Regions from separate parts of the Homo sapiens genome. Here region 2 is linked to region 1. A link means that fine-mapping ties the variant in region 1 to the expression of a gene that starts in the linked region. Tissue or cell type: T cells. Region 1 holds a variant in brackets; the other region holds the start of a gene. All regions are shown on one strand. Distances are between the middles of the regions.

Region 1 (8,180 bases):
AGGTACTCACATGCCTATTAGCTAAATTTGGGCAGGAAATGCAGGCCGAGAGATGAAGCACAGGCTTTGGCTGTGCAGATACTGTTGCCCCAAGGGGCTAGGACACTCTTAGAGGAATCCTGAGAGGTTTCCATCCTTTTCTAGGGTTCTGTTGCCATTTGATCATTCATTCATTCATTCTTTACTCACTCGCTAATTCATTCATTCAGCACATCTCTGGGGAACTACTCTTCCTCCCTCTGTGTGCTGGACATTTTGCCACCGGATCTCTTTATCCCTCTCCCAGGCCACATGCCCTCCCAATTGGCCAGACGACCGTGATCAACAAAATGCCTGCTGTGTGTGAGGCCAGCTGTACTGTATAATCCAGACAAAACCGGCAGTTTTTGCTTTTTTTTTTTTTTTTTTTTTTTTTTTTGAGACAGAGTCTCACTCTGTCACCCCAGGCTGGAGTGCAGTGGCGTGATCTGGGCTCACTGCAACCTTTGCCTTCCAAGTTCCAGCAATTCGTGTGCCTCAGCCTCCCAAGTAGCTGGGATTACAGGTGTGCACCACTATGCCCAGCTAATTTGTCATACTTTTTGTAGAAACGGGGTTTCACCAGGCTGGCTTGAACGAGGCCTGGCACGAGGCCAGGCTGGTCTCGAACTCCTGGCCTCAAGTGATGCACCTGCCTCAGCCTCCCAAAGTGCTGAGATTACAGGCATGAGCCACCGCACCAGGCCCTACTTTTGCTCTGGATTGGTTCACCGTCCTTCATCCTTTCTTGAATTTCCCCTCCAGGACTTTCGCCCTCATCAGTGGCTCCTAGCTTCCTAGCTGTACTGTACTTTTTTTTTCTTTTTCTTTTTTTTTGAGACAGAGTCCCGCTCTGTCATCCAGGCTGCAGTGCAGTGGCACAATCTCAGCTCACTGCAACCTCTGCTTCCTGGGTTCAAGTGATTCTCCTGTCTCAGCCTCCCTAGTAGCTGGGATTACAGGCACGTGCCACCATGCCCAGCTAAATTTTTTTGTATTTTTAGTAGAGATGAGGTTTCACCTTGTTGGCCAGGCTAGTTTCGAATTCCTGACCTCAGGCAATCCGCCTGCCTCGGCCTCCCAAAGTGTTGGGATTACAGGCATAAGCCACCACACCTGGCTTTTTGTGTGTGTGTTTTTTTTGTTTGTTTTTGAAACAGGGTCTCACTCTGTTGCCCAGGCTAGAGTGCAGTGGTGCAATCGCGGCTCACTGCAGCCTTGATCTCCAAGGATCAAGCGTTCTCATCTGGTCTCTTTAACCCTTCCCTAGGCCACATGCCCACCCAATTGGCCAGGCTACCATGATCAACAAAACTCCTGGCCAGGCTATCCAGCCTCCTCCTGCTGGTTCATTGCTAGGTGTTTCCCAGGCGTCCAGGTAAGAAGAATCACCTCGGGAGCTTGTTGAGCACGCAGCTTCCCAGGCTCTGTCCCTAGTGAATCCACATTACCTCGTCCTAGGTGGAGGTCTGAGACTTTGTGATCAAAGCACTTTCCTGGGTGCATCTGAGAGCGGTGAGAGGTTGGAAACGCCGAATCCTGTGCATACAGCTCACCTGGGGGTCTCATTACGGGCACACTCTGATTCATCTGCTCTAAGGCGGGCCAAGATTCTGCGCTTCCATCCAGGATCCAGGCAGTGCCCATGCCGTGGTTCATGGACCCCGCTTTGAAGGGCAAAGTGTTACAGGTCTATAGTCCTTCAACATATAGTAGTTTCAATGTGCTTAACCGCTTTCTTTTTTTGTCTGTTTTTGGTTTTTTTGAGATGGAGTCTCCCTTTGTCGCCCAGGCTGGAGTGAAGTGGCACGATCTCAGCTCACTGCAACCTCAGCCTCCGGGGTTCAAGCAATTCTCCTGCCCCAGTCTCCTGAGCAGCTGGGGTTACAGGTGCGTGCCACCAAGCCCAGCTAATTTTAGTAGAGACGGGATTTCACCGTGTTGATCAGGCTGGTCTCTAACTCCTGATCTCGTGATCCGCCTGCCTTGGCCTCCCAAAGCAGGTGTGAGCCGCCGCGCCTGGCCGCTTGCTTAACCACTTTTAAATGAGATCCGGTGCGTTCAGTGTGGTATGGCCATAGACTGCTTAACCACTTTCAGATGAGATCTTCCTATGAGCTGGGGAACAGGTGAAGGACTTTGAATGCAATGTCTCATTTGATCTCTTAATAGCGCCCTTTTACAAATGAGGAAACTGAGGCTTTGAGAGGTTTGTGATTTGCTGAGTCATATAGCTGAGGTGGGCAGAGTTGGCCTTGAACCCAGGCTGTTATGAGGCTGGGGCCCAGGCAATGGAGAAGAAAAGGAATGACAATATCTGGGCATCTACTGTGTGTGAGGCCGGTGTTGCAGGCATTCATCATCTCCTCCCATTTTTTTTTCTTCTTCTTTTTTATTATACTTTTTTATTATACTGGGGTACATGTGCAGAACGTGCAGGTTTGTTACATAGGTATACATGTGCCATGGTGGTTTGCCGCACCCATCAACTCATCTTCTACATTAGGTATTTCTCCTAATGCTCTCCTTCCCCTAAACCCCCACCCCCAACAGGCCCCGGTGTGTGATGTTCCCCTCCCTGTGTCCACATGTTCTCGTTGTTCACCTCCCACTTATGAGTGAGAACATGCGGTGTTTGTTTTTCTGTTCCTGTGTTAGTTTGCTGCATCATCTCCTTCAACTCTTATAGCAGCCTCACGGGGCACTTATTAGTATCCTCAACTTACAGAAAGGGAAACTGAGGCACAGAGAGGCTACATAGCTGATCCAAAGCCAGTCAGCTCCGGGTGGCAGAGCTGGGGTTGAGTCCAGTCTCCCTGATGCCCACATGTACCCAGCTCTGCTGCATCTCAGCCACCTGGCCAACACCGTCCTGCCTGCCCTGACAGCCATAAGCCCTGTGTCAGTGTCCTGGGGCTTCCAGAACAAATGACCCCAAGCTGGGTGGCCTTCAGCAGCAGACATGTATTCTCTCCCAGTGCTGGAGGCCAGAAGTCCAAAGTCAAGGTGTTGGCAGGGCCGTCCTCTCTCTGATGACTTTAAGGCAGGACCCTTCCTCTTCTCTTCCCACTTCTGGTGGTCCTGGCCCACCTTGGCTTGTAGCTGCATCGCTCCAGTCTCTGCCTCCGTTGTCACATGGCCTTCCTTCCTCTGGGTCTGTCTCTGCATCTTTCTTTTTTTCTTTTGAAAAATTTAATCTATTTATTTATTTTGAGACCAGGTTATTAGACTGGCTAATTTTTGTATTTTGGTAGAGATGGGTTTTGCCATTTTGTCCAAACTGGTCTCGAACTCCTGGGCTCAAGCTATCTACCTGCCTCGGCCTCCGAAAGTGCTGCATTACAGGCATGAGCCGTCGCACCTGGCCTCTGCATCTCTGTTCTTTTCTTTGAGACAGAGATTCGCTCTGTTGCCCAGGCTGGAGTGCAGTGGCGCAATCTCGTCTCACTGCAACCTCTGCCTCCTGGGTTCAAGCAATTCTCGTGCCTCAGCCTCCCAAGCAGCTGGGATTACAGGCATGCACTACCATGCCCGGCTATTTTTGTATTTTTAGTAGAGATGGGGTTTCACCATGTTGGCCAGGTTGGTCTCGAACTCCCGACCTCAGGTGATCCGCCTGCCTCAGCCTCCCGAAGTGCTGGGATTACAGGCGTGAGTCATCACGCCAGGCCTTTTGTTGTACTTTTAAGAAGTCAAAAGCTGGGGCAGGGATCGGGGGAGGTTGGGAGGTGGATGAGGGATAAAAGACAACATATTGGGTACAGTGTACACTGCTGGGGTGATGGGTGCACTAAAATCTCAGAATTCGCCACTAAAGAACTCAGTGATGTAACCAAAATCCACCTGTACTCCCAAAAACTATTGAAATAATAAAATAAATAAAAGGTCAGAAGCAAAGAGAATTAACAGGCAACCCACAGAAGAAAATATTACTAGTTAACATGCCTGCAAATGTTTTCACCCCCTGGTGATCAAATAAATACTAACTGATGTAAGATGCCATTTCTTGGCCTTCATTAGTGAAAGTTTTTGTAAATGGTAATTGTGAATGCTGGAAACTGTTTCTTGAACAGTCACTTTCCTACATTGCTGTGGCCTCTTTTCGGGAAGCAATTGGACAGTGTTTCCCAGGGGCGGCCAAAAGATCCATTCCATTTGATTCCATGATTCCACTTCTAAAACTCTCTCCCAAGGAAATAATCAGAGATGTGGTCACAATTTCTATACAAAGATGCTGTTACAACATCTGAAAAAAAAAA[A/C]AAAAAACAGTGGCAGAAACAAATTAAAACTAGCTTAAATGTCTAACCATAGGCATTGATAAAATAAAAGGGTTTTTGCTAACTTAGAAGAATGCTTATGCTAAGTGAGAAGGGATGCAAAATTGTATATCCAGTGGGACCACAAATGTGTACAAAATTGTGCAGAATAAAAGGACTTGAGATACTCATGACAAGAGTCATAAAGAGAAAAATTTCCAAGTATGACAAGGGCCTCTCTCTGGGACAGATATGGGGCCATGTCATATACTATTGTTGGAGCACAGAAAACAATTCCCCACAATATGACACTTCCCATGCAGACCTGAAGAAGCAGCCTCAAGGTCTCTCTGATCCCTCTCCTCCTGCCTGTCAACCTTCTGTCTCTCTCAAAGCACTGGAGGAGGCTATTCTCTGACGCTCCCCTATCTACCTAGAAAACAGACCCCTAGTGAGGAACACAGCTGCCTCTGTTGACTTAAAAGGAAGAAGCTGAGGCAACATTCATTTAAGTACAAAGTTTATTTGGGCCAAGCTTGAGGATTGCATCCCAGGAGCATAGATTCAAATTGCTCTGAATATACACTCCAATTAGCAGCAGTTAAAAGTAAATTTTTAAAGGAAAAGAAGAGGCAGTTCCTGAGTTGTTTATCAAGAACGTGTAGTAAAATAACAAGTTTTGATTGGGTATAGGTTGTTCTTTTTATCACACATTTCAGGAACATGAAGATAATGAGTGAGGCAGCTAGGCAGGAACAAAATAACTTTTTTTTTCTTTTCTTTTTTTGTTTTTTGAGACAGAGTCTTGTTCTGTGGCCCAGGCTGGAGTGCAATGGTGTAATCTCAGCTCGCCACAACCTCCACCTCCTGAGTTCAAGCGATTCTCCTGCCTCAGCCTCCTAAGTAGCTGGGATTACAGGCATGCGCCACCACGCCCGGCTAATTTTTGTATTTTTAGTAGAGATGGGGTTTCACCATGTTGGTCAGGCTGGTTTTGAACTCCTGACCTTGTGATCTGCTGGTCTTGGCCTCCCAAAGTGCTGGTGTGTCTGGAATTGGTTACTTCTGGTGCGTTCTTCGTCTCGCTGACTTCAAGAATGAAGCCACGGACCCTCGCGGTGAGTGTTACAGTTCTTAAAGATGGTGTGTCCAGAGTTTGCTCCTTCAGATGTTCAGATGTGTCCCGAGTTTCTTCTTCCAGTGGGTTCGTGGTCTCGCTAACTTCAGGAGTGAAGCTGCAGACCTTAGCAGTGAGTGTTACAACTCTTAAAGGTGGCGCGTCCAGAGTTGTTTGTTCCTCCCGATGGGTTTGTGGTCTCGCTGACTTCAGGAGTGAAGCCACAGACCTTCACAGTGAGTGTTACAATAAAGCTAGTGGGGACCCAAAGAGTGAGCAGCAGCAAGATTTATTGTGAAGAGCCAAAGATCAAAGCTTCCACATCCTGCAAGGGGACCCCAACGGTTTGCAGCTGCTGGCTCAGGTGGCCAGCGTTTATTCCCTTATTTGGCCCTGACCACATCCTGCTGATTAGTCCATTTTACAGAGTGCTGATTGGTCGTTTTTACAGAGTGCTGATTGGTGCGTTTACAAACCTTTAGCTAGACACAGAGTGCTGATTGGTGCGTTTTTACAGAGTGCTGATTGGTGCGTTTTTACTGAGCGCTGATTGGTGCGTTTACAAACCTTTAGCTAGACACAGAGCGCTGATTGGTGTGTTTACAATCCTTTAGTTAGACAGAAAAGTTCTCCAAGTCCCCACCCAACCCAGAAGCCCAGCTGGCTTCACCTCTCACTGGGATTACAGGCGTGAGCCACCACGCCCAACCGGTAGGAACAAAATAACTTTAAACAATTGTCCCCAGGTGTAGGCACCGGCTACAGGGGGCCAGGGAATGACTGGAATTCCATACCCATGTCTCTGTGGGTCTGCAGATCTCTCAGTTCTCAGCCTGCTCTGAGCTATTTTTCTTTTCTCATATCCCCCCTGTTGATCAAAATTATTCCCATGGCAGCATTGATGATCAGTCTCTGTGCAGGTGGCAGTGATAGATGTCCTTCATCCCTCAGTGCTGGGAAGTCTCATTCCTGGGTAGTCCTCATTCAAGCCACTGATTTATATAAATGCTGTTGTTGCTTGTTGAATCATCTCCACTCTTCAGAATATCATTTTCTGGTTTTCTTGGAAGAAGCAAAACCCTGAGAGATACATAGTAACAAAGCCTATTCCATTGGGGATTCAGTTCAAATTGTAGGAAAATAATAAAAGAACTCAAAAACAATGGTCGGGGGCTGGAATCTAATAACAGGTGTTCTATAGCTTTCTTCAGGAGCCTAACTTTTTTCTCCAGTCCCTATTTTTACCAAAGTTTAGTATTATACTTGGCCTGATTATTTGCATAAAGTGCAGCAAGAATAGTGATTGGCCATATAGACCCTTTTAAGTTGACTTTGCTGGAACGTTCAGAAGGAATTTCAGATTAGACTTTTAAAAGTCTCAAGGCTAGGACATCAAACCAAGGATTCACCGCTAGACTGCACCTGTAATACTTGTACAAATTGGGTGAATTTCTCTCTTCCCAAGGTCCCCAAAATATCTTTTGGTTCCTGGGCATATCAGAAAGACACATTCTTTATTTACTGCAAGATTAGAAACCTTGAAAGGGAACTATGTAGACAAGATAGCAGGCCAGTTTTGCCAAGAGGCTTTTTATCAGCTCTATAAAGTCCATTTCAATTCCTCAAAGCAGTGTTATCATATCTGAAAATACGTCATTCCAGTCAGAATCTTGATTTGAAAAAAAAATTGTCTTAAATTGTATCCTGTGACAGAAAACAGATTCTTACTGAACTAATGCAAATAACTTGATTGCCATAAAATACGAATACTCATGAAGATTTTCCAAGTTTTGGGGAAATCAGGTAGAGATAAAGGCAAATGTTTCCATTTTGTTTACAAAGGTATATTTTATCCAGTTTCTATAAGCTACAAATAGTTCAAAAGAGAAAAGTTTTCTTGACTGTGGAAATCAAAATATAAAAAGAATCAGCAATGTTTTGGGCAAAAAATCATAAAAGTCATTTCAGTCCTCTATCAGTTCAGTCCCATGTAATTAATTCTTGTCTTGCTTGATGTTGGGTTAGCAATCTTCATGAATGCATTAGTTTATTAGAGTTCTGAATGTTTTTACTTGGTCCAATGATACGATCTTTGAAGTTATCAAAAACCTGTATTCAAGAGTACAGGGCCGGCCGGGCGCGGTGGCTCACACTTGTAATCCCAGCACTTTGGGAGGCCGAGGCGGGCGGATCACGAGGTCAGGAGATCGAGACCATCCTAGCTAACACGGTGAAACCCCGTCTCTACTAAAAATAGAAAAAATTAGCCGGGCGTGGTGGCGGGCGCCTGTAGTTCCAGCTACTCGGGAGGCTGTGGCAGGAGAATGGCGTGAACCCAGGAGGCGGAGCTTGCAGTGAGCTGAGATCAGGCCACTGCACTCCAGCCTGGGCGAAAGAGCAAGACTCCGTCTCAAAAAAAAAAAAGAGTACAGGGCCAGGGTCCTTTTCCATGAATCTCTTTGAAGAAAAAGCAAATTTGAACTGCAGCCAGTTGTAAATCACTTTTTGAGAAGAATCAAAATAGAGCAATAATTGTCTATGAATGGCAAAAGACTTCGGGTAGCTATAGTTAAAGATGTAATTAACAAGGAAATTTGATTATTTCTGTGGCATACAATAATTTAACATAATAACTATAATTATGTGTGACAACATAGACGTATCAGAATGTTAGGAATCTCATAACTTGAGAACACACATTCATAACGTATCTATACAAATATAACTCAAACAAATTTAAACACCATTTCTTATTTGACAAAGCTTCCTGTATGACTTTAACATACCAC
Region 2 (8,180 bases), 41 kb after region 1:
CGCCTGGCTGCCCTGAGGAGAGGGAGCAGGGTAGGAGTTACAATCGTACAGGCAGTGATGGGTCTGTGCCTGAGATCAGCAACCCTGGAAGTATTCCTAAAAGAGTCATTTAGGGCCAGGTGCAGTGGCTCACTCCTGTAATTCCAACACTTTGGGAGGCTGAAGCAGGTGGATCACGAGGTCAGGAGATCAGGACCATCCTTACCAATATGGTGAAACTCCGTCTCTACTAAAAATACAAAAATTAGCTGGGAGTGGTGGCACGTGCCTGTAATCCCAGCTACTCAGGAAGCTGAGGCAGGAGAATCACTTGCACCAGGGAGGCGGAGGTTGCAGTAAGCTGAGATCACGGCACTGCACTCCAGCCTGGCGACGGAGCAAGACTCCGTCCCAAAAAAAAAAAAAAAAAAAGAGTCATTTAGAAAAACTGAGTATGTGTCAACAATCTTCTGTGGCACTTGGATTTTAAATTGTTGGTGCTGGGATGAAACTGGTCCAGGGGGAGATCGCATCCCATTGATTTTCCCTTTTTGTATGTTGTGAAAATACCTGACATCTGTTTGACCTGCAACCACCATTGCAGCCTCAGCCATCCCCATTTTGGTGGCTGTGGCTTCTTCAACCTAATTTCTGCCACCCTCTGTGAATGACTTGGGTTCTCCAAATCACCACACCCTTGCAAGCTTAATGCCTGTAGTGAGCTGAATGGCGACCCTTAAAAGATATGTCCACATGCTAACCCCGGGAACCTGATTTACCTTACATAGTAAAAGAGTGAACATTATCTTATATGGCAAAGATAGGATTAAGTTAAGGATTTTGAGAGGGAGACCTTATCCTGGATTATCCCAGCAGGCCCTAAATCCTATGATGAGTGTCCTTATAAGAGACACAGAGAAGAGGAGGAGGCAATATGACTGGAGTGACATGAAGGCAGAGATTGGAGTGATGCAGCCACAGTCAAAGAATGTCTGGAGCCACTGGAAGCTGGAGGGGGAAAGAACAGGTTCTTCTCTGTGGCTTGTAGAGGGAGTGAGGCCCTGCTGGGACCTAGACTTTAGACTTCTGGCCTCCAAAGCCAGGAGAGAACATGTTTCTATTGTTTTAAGCCAAATTTGTTCCAACAGTGGCAGGAAGCTCATATACTGTCTTAACACATTCTGTTCTCCTACCTGGAATGCCTTCCCCTCTGCACGCACCTCTCTCAGGCCCACCTGTAGGAAGCTTTATCCACAGTCTTTACCCACAGTCTCTGGATGTCCTCCCTCCTGGCAAGAGGCAGAGGCCACTCTCCCACAGGGCCACTGCTCCCAGCAAAGACTTGCCCTTGTCCGTAGCTCCCTGCGGGTGGCGCTGTGTCTCATGCATTTTGCATTGTCCATGCCCTTCACAGGGCCCAGATACAATCAGCAGAGGAAGAAAACCACAGGATGAAACAGTCCCAATGACCAGCACCAGTGAAGACCCAAGACAGCACAAAAGGCCAGCTAGCAGAGAAACATGATTGTTCACCGTCCATCTCTGGGACAACCTAGGTCCTTCTTGCCTTTCTGTCCTCCTCAGTTGACAGAGTCTCTAAGGGAGGGGCAGGGCCTCCACTTTGTTCCTCCTGGTGTGGAATTCTGACCAAGTGTGTGTGTGTGTGTGTGTGTGTGTGTGTGTGTGTTTGCGCGCGCGCGTGTGTGTTGGGTTCTGTTAAATGCTTGAGCCTGAGACGGGGGGCGGGGCGGGGGGGGGTGCGGGAAAGCCATTTCCTTGCTTAAGCCCAAAGGGTTTCTCCTGACCAGTGGGTCACTCTCATGGCAGATGCCTGGGCAGATTTCTGAAGTGGAGCAAGAGAAATCTTCTCTTCTTCACCTGCTTCAGGGAGGCATCAAAGTGCCAAAAAGGTGGGTTCTGTGGGTCCCCGAGGCCCGTGGCAGGGGCCAGAGTCTGACACCCGCTTTCCCTGGGTTGGGGGCGGGGTGCCTCTGCCAGGAGCCTGGGTTCAGACCAGGCTGGCCTGTGGTCAAAGGCACACTTAGACCCTGGCTGGAGAGTTGGGGCGAGTTACGAGATACCCACTAGGTCACCTGTCAAAGACGGCTAGCCCTCCTGGGGATTTTGAAATCAGGGCACCCGCGGCAAGTTCCCAGGCTGTGCCTGGGGCTCAAGGCGGTGGCTGCTCCTGTGCTCTGGGCTTATTCCCAGGATTCTCAGACGGCTGATGGAAAACGCCCCGGACCCTCCGTAGTGCCGCGGGGAAGTCCCCGGAAAGGGTGTGAAAAAGTATCGAATTTGGGTGATGCCTCCTCCTCGTCCAGCGCCTGACAGGGCCCAGCTCCTGGCCCAGGTGCCCAGGAGGCACCGATCCCCGCAGCCGGCCTCCTCCCGCGCGGGCTCCACTCCCATTTCGGCCTCGCCCCCACACCCCATAGTCTTTCATCCGTGAGTCCTGCAGGCAGGACGGGTTGGAGGTCTGCAAACAGGACCCTCTCTGGGAAGCCGCGACAGCGGCTGAGCTCGGGGTTTGGGGGCGCAGGTCGGGCTAGAACCACCCCCCTTCTCTCCGCGTCCGGGCATCGTCCCAGCGGCCCCTCCTCTGTGCCCAGGATGCTCGGGCGGCGGCTGCAGTGGGACCTCCACCTTCTCTGCCAACCAGAGCGGAGGAACCTTTCCGCCTCCCTCCAAGCGGCGCACTGAGCGCTCTTTGCCTAGAACGACTTCCCTCCCGCTGCCTGGGGCAGCCTCACCCTGGGCGCCCACACCCCAGCCCTGGGAGAGCGCTACTCCGCCTCCCGCACCACCGAAAACCTCCTCCTCCTTTACGGGCCGCGCCTCCTTTACGGGCCGCGCCCCCTTTATACGCGGACGCGCCCTCTTTTGGTCGCCCCCTCCCCAACCCAGCACTAAGGAGCACCCTGCTCTGGTCTCCGCCACCACCCAGCGCCTCCTGGACCCATCCCCCCAAACCCTTGAACGTCCTCAGGACCCCCAGGTGAGCGCGGCGCGCTGCGGGCGGGGACCCTCTCTGCACCTCCCCGCACCCCTGGGGGTCGCTCTGTCCCTACGGTCCCCGCCTCCCCTTTCTCCTTTCTAAGCGCCTCGCGCCCAGGCCGCCGCCCGGGGTGGCGCAGCCCGCAGCCCTCCCGCTCCGGGCGCCCTCCGCCGCTCCGAGACCCCCTGGGGGCGCGTCCTCTCCCGCTCCCCTGTTCCCTCCCCCGGCTCAGGGCGGGCGCGTGGTCCCAGGGGAGGCTCCCGCCCAGCCCCGCACTCCTTTGTGCGGCCGGGCGGGCGCTGCGTCAAGGTGGAGGCGCGGCCACACGCGCGCACCCACCCGCGCGCACCCAGCCCCCGGGAGAGGCAGGAAGGGAGGCGGCGGCGCGAGGAGGAGGGAGCGGCCGTGGAGCCCAATCGTTCGCTCCCCTTCCCGGGTCCGCGCGCGGCGCCGCCTCCGCCATTGCTGCGAGCAGGAGCAGGAGACGCGGAGCTCGGAGCGCTCAGCTGACCTGCCGGAGCCGGGCGTGGGTGAGTGCGGCCGGCCGCGCCTGGGCTTGCCGAGGCCAGACCTTGCCCGCCCAGGAGCAGTGCCCGGGGGATGCCCATCTCCCGGAGTACGCGGGACGGGGCTGTGAACAGCGGGTCGCCCGGGTGCGGCGGCCCCAGGACCGGGGACCGGGTCTGGAGGTGCTGGGCAGGGGCGGCGCCCCCTTCCCTGGCCGCGGTGCGCCCTTGCGCCCGGCGCTTGGGTCCTGCGAGATGAGGGTCTAGAAATACACAGCACCACCCGACCCCCGCATCGGGCCGTGACCACCGCGTCCCCACGAGCCCTCCCCGAGACGAAGCGGGGCCGGGGAGCTCGCGGACGCCGGGACGCCGGTGGGTGTGGGTGCCCACTTCCCCCCCGCCCCGCCCCGGGTCTTGCTTGTGGTGACTCCCCCCGGCCCTCCCGCCGCAGGCTGCAGCCTCGGAGCTCCCGGAACGATGGTGAAGTTGGGGAACAATTTCGCAGAGAAGGGCACCAAGCAGCCGCTGCTGGAGGATGGCTTCGACACCATTCCCCTGATGACGCCCCTCGATGTCAATCAGCTGCAGTTCCCGCCCCCGGATAAGGTAAGCCCCCCCACGCCCCTCCACGTTGCCGGGTGTGCACCCCCAAATCTCGCACGGCGGGCGCAACAAAAGAAACGCGCCGCGTGCGCTGGGTACGCGAAGTGGGGGCGGGCTCGGGAGGCCGGAGGGAGCGCGGCGAGGACAGTGTACCCGCGCGGGATTCTGGATCGCGGGATGCTGGGCGGGGGAGGGGAGCCCTGCCTTAGATGATATTCTCGTCCTGACAGTGGAACGCGGTGGGGCAAGATTCCTTCGCGTTTTTCCTGGGAGCCTCATCCGAGAGGGCCCTGGCCCCGCAGCTGCCCTGCTCCTCCCTTGCCCCGTGGCCCCAGGGGCTCTGGATCGGGGGTGAGCCTAGGGGCGGGCGAGGCTGCCCCTGTACCTTCCCGGGTGTGGCAGTTCAGCCCGACTTGCCCCACCGAGGCGGGGGAGCGTTCTCCTTGGTCAGATGGCCCCTCCCCAGGGCTGAATTGTTCTCGCCCTTTCTGCCTGCCCCTGCCAGGCTGGCGCTAGGTGCAGGAGGGTGTGCGCGCTCACACAGGGTCTCCTTCCTCTTTGTTCCTTTTGTGAAATCTCCAAATAAGTGCCCGGGCTCGCTCAGTATTGGTGTCACTGGGAAAAACCATTCATCAACCTTTCCCCAAAGTGTTTTCTGCTGAATTTAAAGAATCTCCTCTTTTTGAATGTAGCATCCAATTAAGTAGTTTCTGTTTGCTAAGAATAATATTTCCAAGAGTTAACACTTAAAAATGTAAATAGATCTTTGCATGTCTAGGCAATTGTACTGTAAAATTCACATCTAAGACCATAGACACAGCATCTACTCTCAGCATCTTGCTGCCGCTTACGAACCACCACAGCCACGAATAATTCCCGGAAGTGCTTTTCTATTTATTTTCTCATTTAGTCCCTGGTGAAGGGGCTCTGAGCCAGGGCTCTGTCTTCGTTCCAGCAAGTTGGTGATTGCTGACGGGGTGGGTGTTGTGGGGTGGGGGTGTCCTGGTGGGGGCCCTGACCCCTGTGAAGGTGTCCTCCCAGCTTTATTGTGTGTGTCGTCTGGGGAGGGAGGCAGGAGCCGGGAAGAGGCTGGCAGCGGGGGTTTCAGTTCAAGAAAGGGGGATCAGCCGGCCACACCTGTGCCCCCCAGGCCACGGTGGTGCCACTCTGGGCCACTGATGGTCCAGGCTAGGCTTTGCAGGAGGGGCAGGGCTGCCTGAGGCCTCAGCTTCCACTCCACCCCTCCCTGTCTAGGCATCAGACTCGTCCAGTTAGCGGGGCCTGGCCCCGAGGCCCCCACACCCCCTCCTGCCTGGGCCCCCAGCTGCTCGGCTGAGGAGCAGTGGCGCCTGTGCCAGGAACTCCGTGTCCTGAGGCAGCACCTCTATCAGGTGATTCCCCTCACTTGGCCTGAGCCTCCTCTCTTGTCCTCAGTCTGTTCCATTCCAGAACCATTTGGCACAGTTGGTTTATACAGGGAGGAGGGTTTCAGGCAGGTATGAAATCCTCACCAACTAATTAGGTCGACCAGGAGTAGCCTAGGCAGCTCGGAAAGGTGATGAGTCTGCTCTCTCTGCAAGCGTCCGAAGCGGGGCAGCCAGCAGGGATGCTCTTCTCGGGTCCAGCCAGACCTTCCATCCCGGACTTCCCGCCGGGACTGAGTGTGGGTACAAGGGTTATGGCTCTTGGGATCATTTTCCAGAAGGCTTCTAAGGTCACAATGAGGGAACTGAGCCTCAGAGCATTTATGGGACATACCCAAGGTCACTGGGCTGAAGGTTACAGTCCTCCAGGATGCAGAAGTTTCTGGCAGTGCCTCTTACTCCACTGTGCTTGGAGCCAGATGTCTCTCACGTAAGACCTCTCTTAACCTGAACAACAGCAACGTGTTGCTAACGGTCAGAGTTCAGGGAGGCGATGTCACCTGTTTCAGGTGACATGGCTTCTGAGGGGTGGTGACACAGTTGGGTTATAAATGAGAATCTGTTCTGAGAACGTGTATGGAGTGCTGAGGTGCTGGGGTGCAGCGGTGACAGCAGTCACAGTGCTGGCAGCAGAGTCAGGGCTGGTCTCCCCTGACATTTGCCAGACACTTATTCTGCACCAGGAACTATTCTGCCAGTTTTACAGGTTTAAATTCTTTTAATGTGTTGATAATGCCATGAGGTCACTACCATGTTACCCCCATTTTGCAGATGTGGAAATGCAGGCACGGAGAGTTTGAGAATTGCCCAAGGTCACCTAGCCTGTTAGTGGCAGGTGGGGATAGAATCCAGGTCGACAGAATATTGATGGGGCCCCCACATACGGGAGAGGTTTCCATGGGTTTCCTCATCCTCAGCAGTAGCCTTATTTCCCATTCATTGGCCAGTCTAGGCCTGCGTGCTCAAGGTCACATGGCTAGTTGGGTCCAGTCGGGGTTTGAGGATGGCAGGGTGACACCCAACCACTGCCTCAAGCAATGAGTGCCTCACAGGGGTGGGTGCCCAGGCCAACCCATGCCAGGCACCCCTCCCTCTCCACCGCAGGAGCACTGGGTGGAAAAGGAGTTGGGGTCAGAGGCCAAGAGTGTGGTTACAAGGTTTATGGCTCTTGGGATCATTTTTCAGTGACCCTGGAATGGGCTCCGCTGTTCTTTCTCCCCAAGGCTGGCTTTGGGGGTCGTAGCACCGGATGAGAGGCCCTCTGGCTGCCCGCCTGGGGCTGACCATCCCCAGTTGCTGGGGTCTCTTTGTTCTGTCCTGGTCCCCACCATCGTGGAGAGCAGGTGACGGACTGCCCAATGAAGGGGCCTCGTCCCTCGGGGGAGAAAGAGCTTGGAGGTGGCTGGCTGTCTCTAGTGCAACAGCCTCTCCTGGAACCTGGCTTGGGGAGCGGGGTTTGGGGATTAGAGACCTATAACACCTTGACCCTGCTCTTGAACACCTCCCAGTCCAGTGGGACAGAGAAGTAAACAGTCCCTGGCAACGGGTGTGGTGAGTGATGAAGGCAGCGCCGCTGAGGCCAGGGCTGTGAGTGTCCAGGGCTGGGAGGCTTCTTGGGTCCATCTGAAGCTGCTGGGGTGTAGGGCAGATGCAAGGGCTGGTTTCCAGGTTGGACAAACATCGTTCTGCTTCACAGTAGGGGGTGGAGGGGAATGAGAGCAGGGAGACCCTTTGGGGGCTGTGGCAGGGGCAGGGGGAGAGGAGGATGTGGGGGTGGAGACAAAGAGGTTGATCCTGGATCTGTTTCCAGACAAGCTGGTGGCCAGCTTCTCCAGCCAGTCCTGGAGGGCTGTGGACAGTACCCTCAGACCTCCTCTTCTTGTGCCCATGGTGGCACAGCAAGGCCAGTGAAAAGGCAGGTGCAGCCTCCCAGCTTCCTGGGCCAAGCCAGGCTTTGGCTCTGGTGGGTGGAAGGAGCACTGGGTTAGGAGTCAGCTGCCAGGCTGCATCCCCGCCCTGCCGCCTATAAACCGCATGACCTTGGCCAATGAGCTTAACTTCTGTGCCCCTCGGTTATAATATTTCCCTCCTGGGACTGCTATCAGGATTATGAATGGGTCATTTCTCTGAAAGTCCTGCCACAGAGGAGATTTCCAAAAAGTAGTGGCTGTTCTCGTTCTTGTGAATTTCTTCCTGGCAAATGGTGACTTTGAATATGGGAGTTCCCAGACCCACCCTCTTTGGGCAGATATGTCTGAATGCATCTGACTTTTGTTTCTCTGTTTCCTGGATAAGGTGGTCGTGAAAACTAAGACCGAGTATGAACCTGACCGCAAGAAAGGGAAAGCACGTCCTCCCCAAATTGCTGAGTTCACCGTCAGCATCACGGAGGGTGTCACCGAGAGGTTTAAGGTGAGTGGTCCTGTGCTGGGTGAGATGCTGCTTTTGCCCCCAGAAGGGGTCTGCTGAGCTGCATAGATGCCCTGCAGGGAGGGCCAGGGTTTGACGCCGTTTGTCTGGGCTCATCCCAGCTGTGCACACCCAGTAGCTTGTGACTGCCTGCCAAGATGTTGTCCTTGTGCTTTTTGTACATTTCTTTTTTCTTTTCCTCTTCCAAAATGATCACATATTACTTATTTTTATAACAGGGGAAACCCACCCACAAAC

The links. PIP is the estimated chance that this variant, and not a neighbour inherited with it, causes the effect.
Region 2: it holds the start of NSG1, and the variant in region 1 is fine-mapped to the expression of NSG1 in T cells (TOPMed, PIP above 0.99). The same link has a PIP of 0.9 or more in blood mononuclear cells.

The regions. Positions count from the first base shown.
Region 1 is chr4:4,343,080-4,351,259 of GRCh38, forward strand. No RefSeq gene overlaps it. Among named protein-coding and RNA genes, the nearest start is that of NSG1, 40 kb to the right of the region's middle. The variant A/C (reference allele first, on the strand shown) is at 4,278.
Region 2 is chr4:4,383,667-4,391,846 of GRCh38, forward strand. NSG1 (neuronal vesicle trafficking associated 1) reads left to right here and starts at 3,436. Exons shown (of 5, transcript NM_014392.5): 1 at 3,436-3,507; 2 at 3,938-4,092; 3 at 7,809-7,925. The coding sequence starts at 3,964. It overlaps LOC112268462 (a long non-coding RNA gene), which reads left to right. Exons shown (of 3, transcript XR_007058004.1): 3 at 856-943.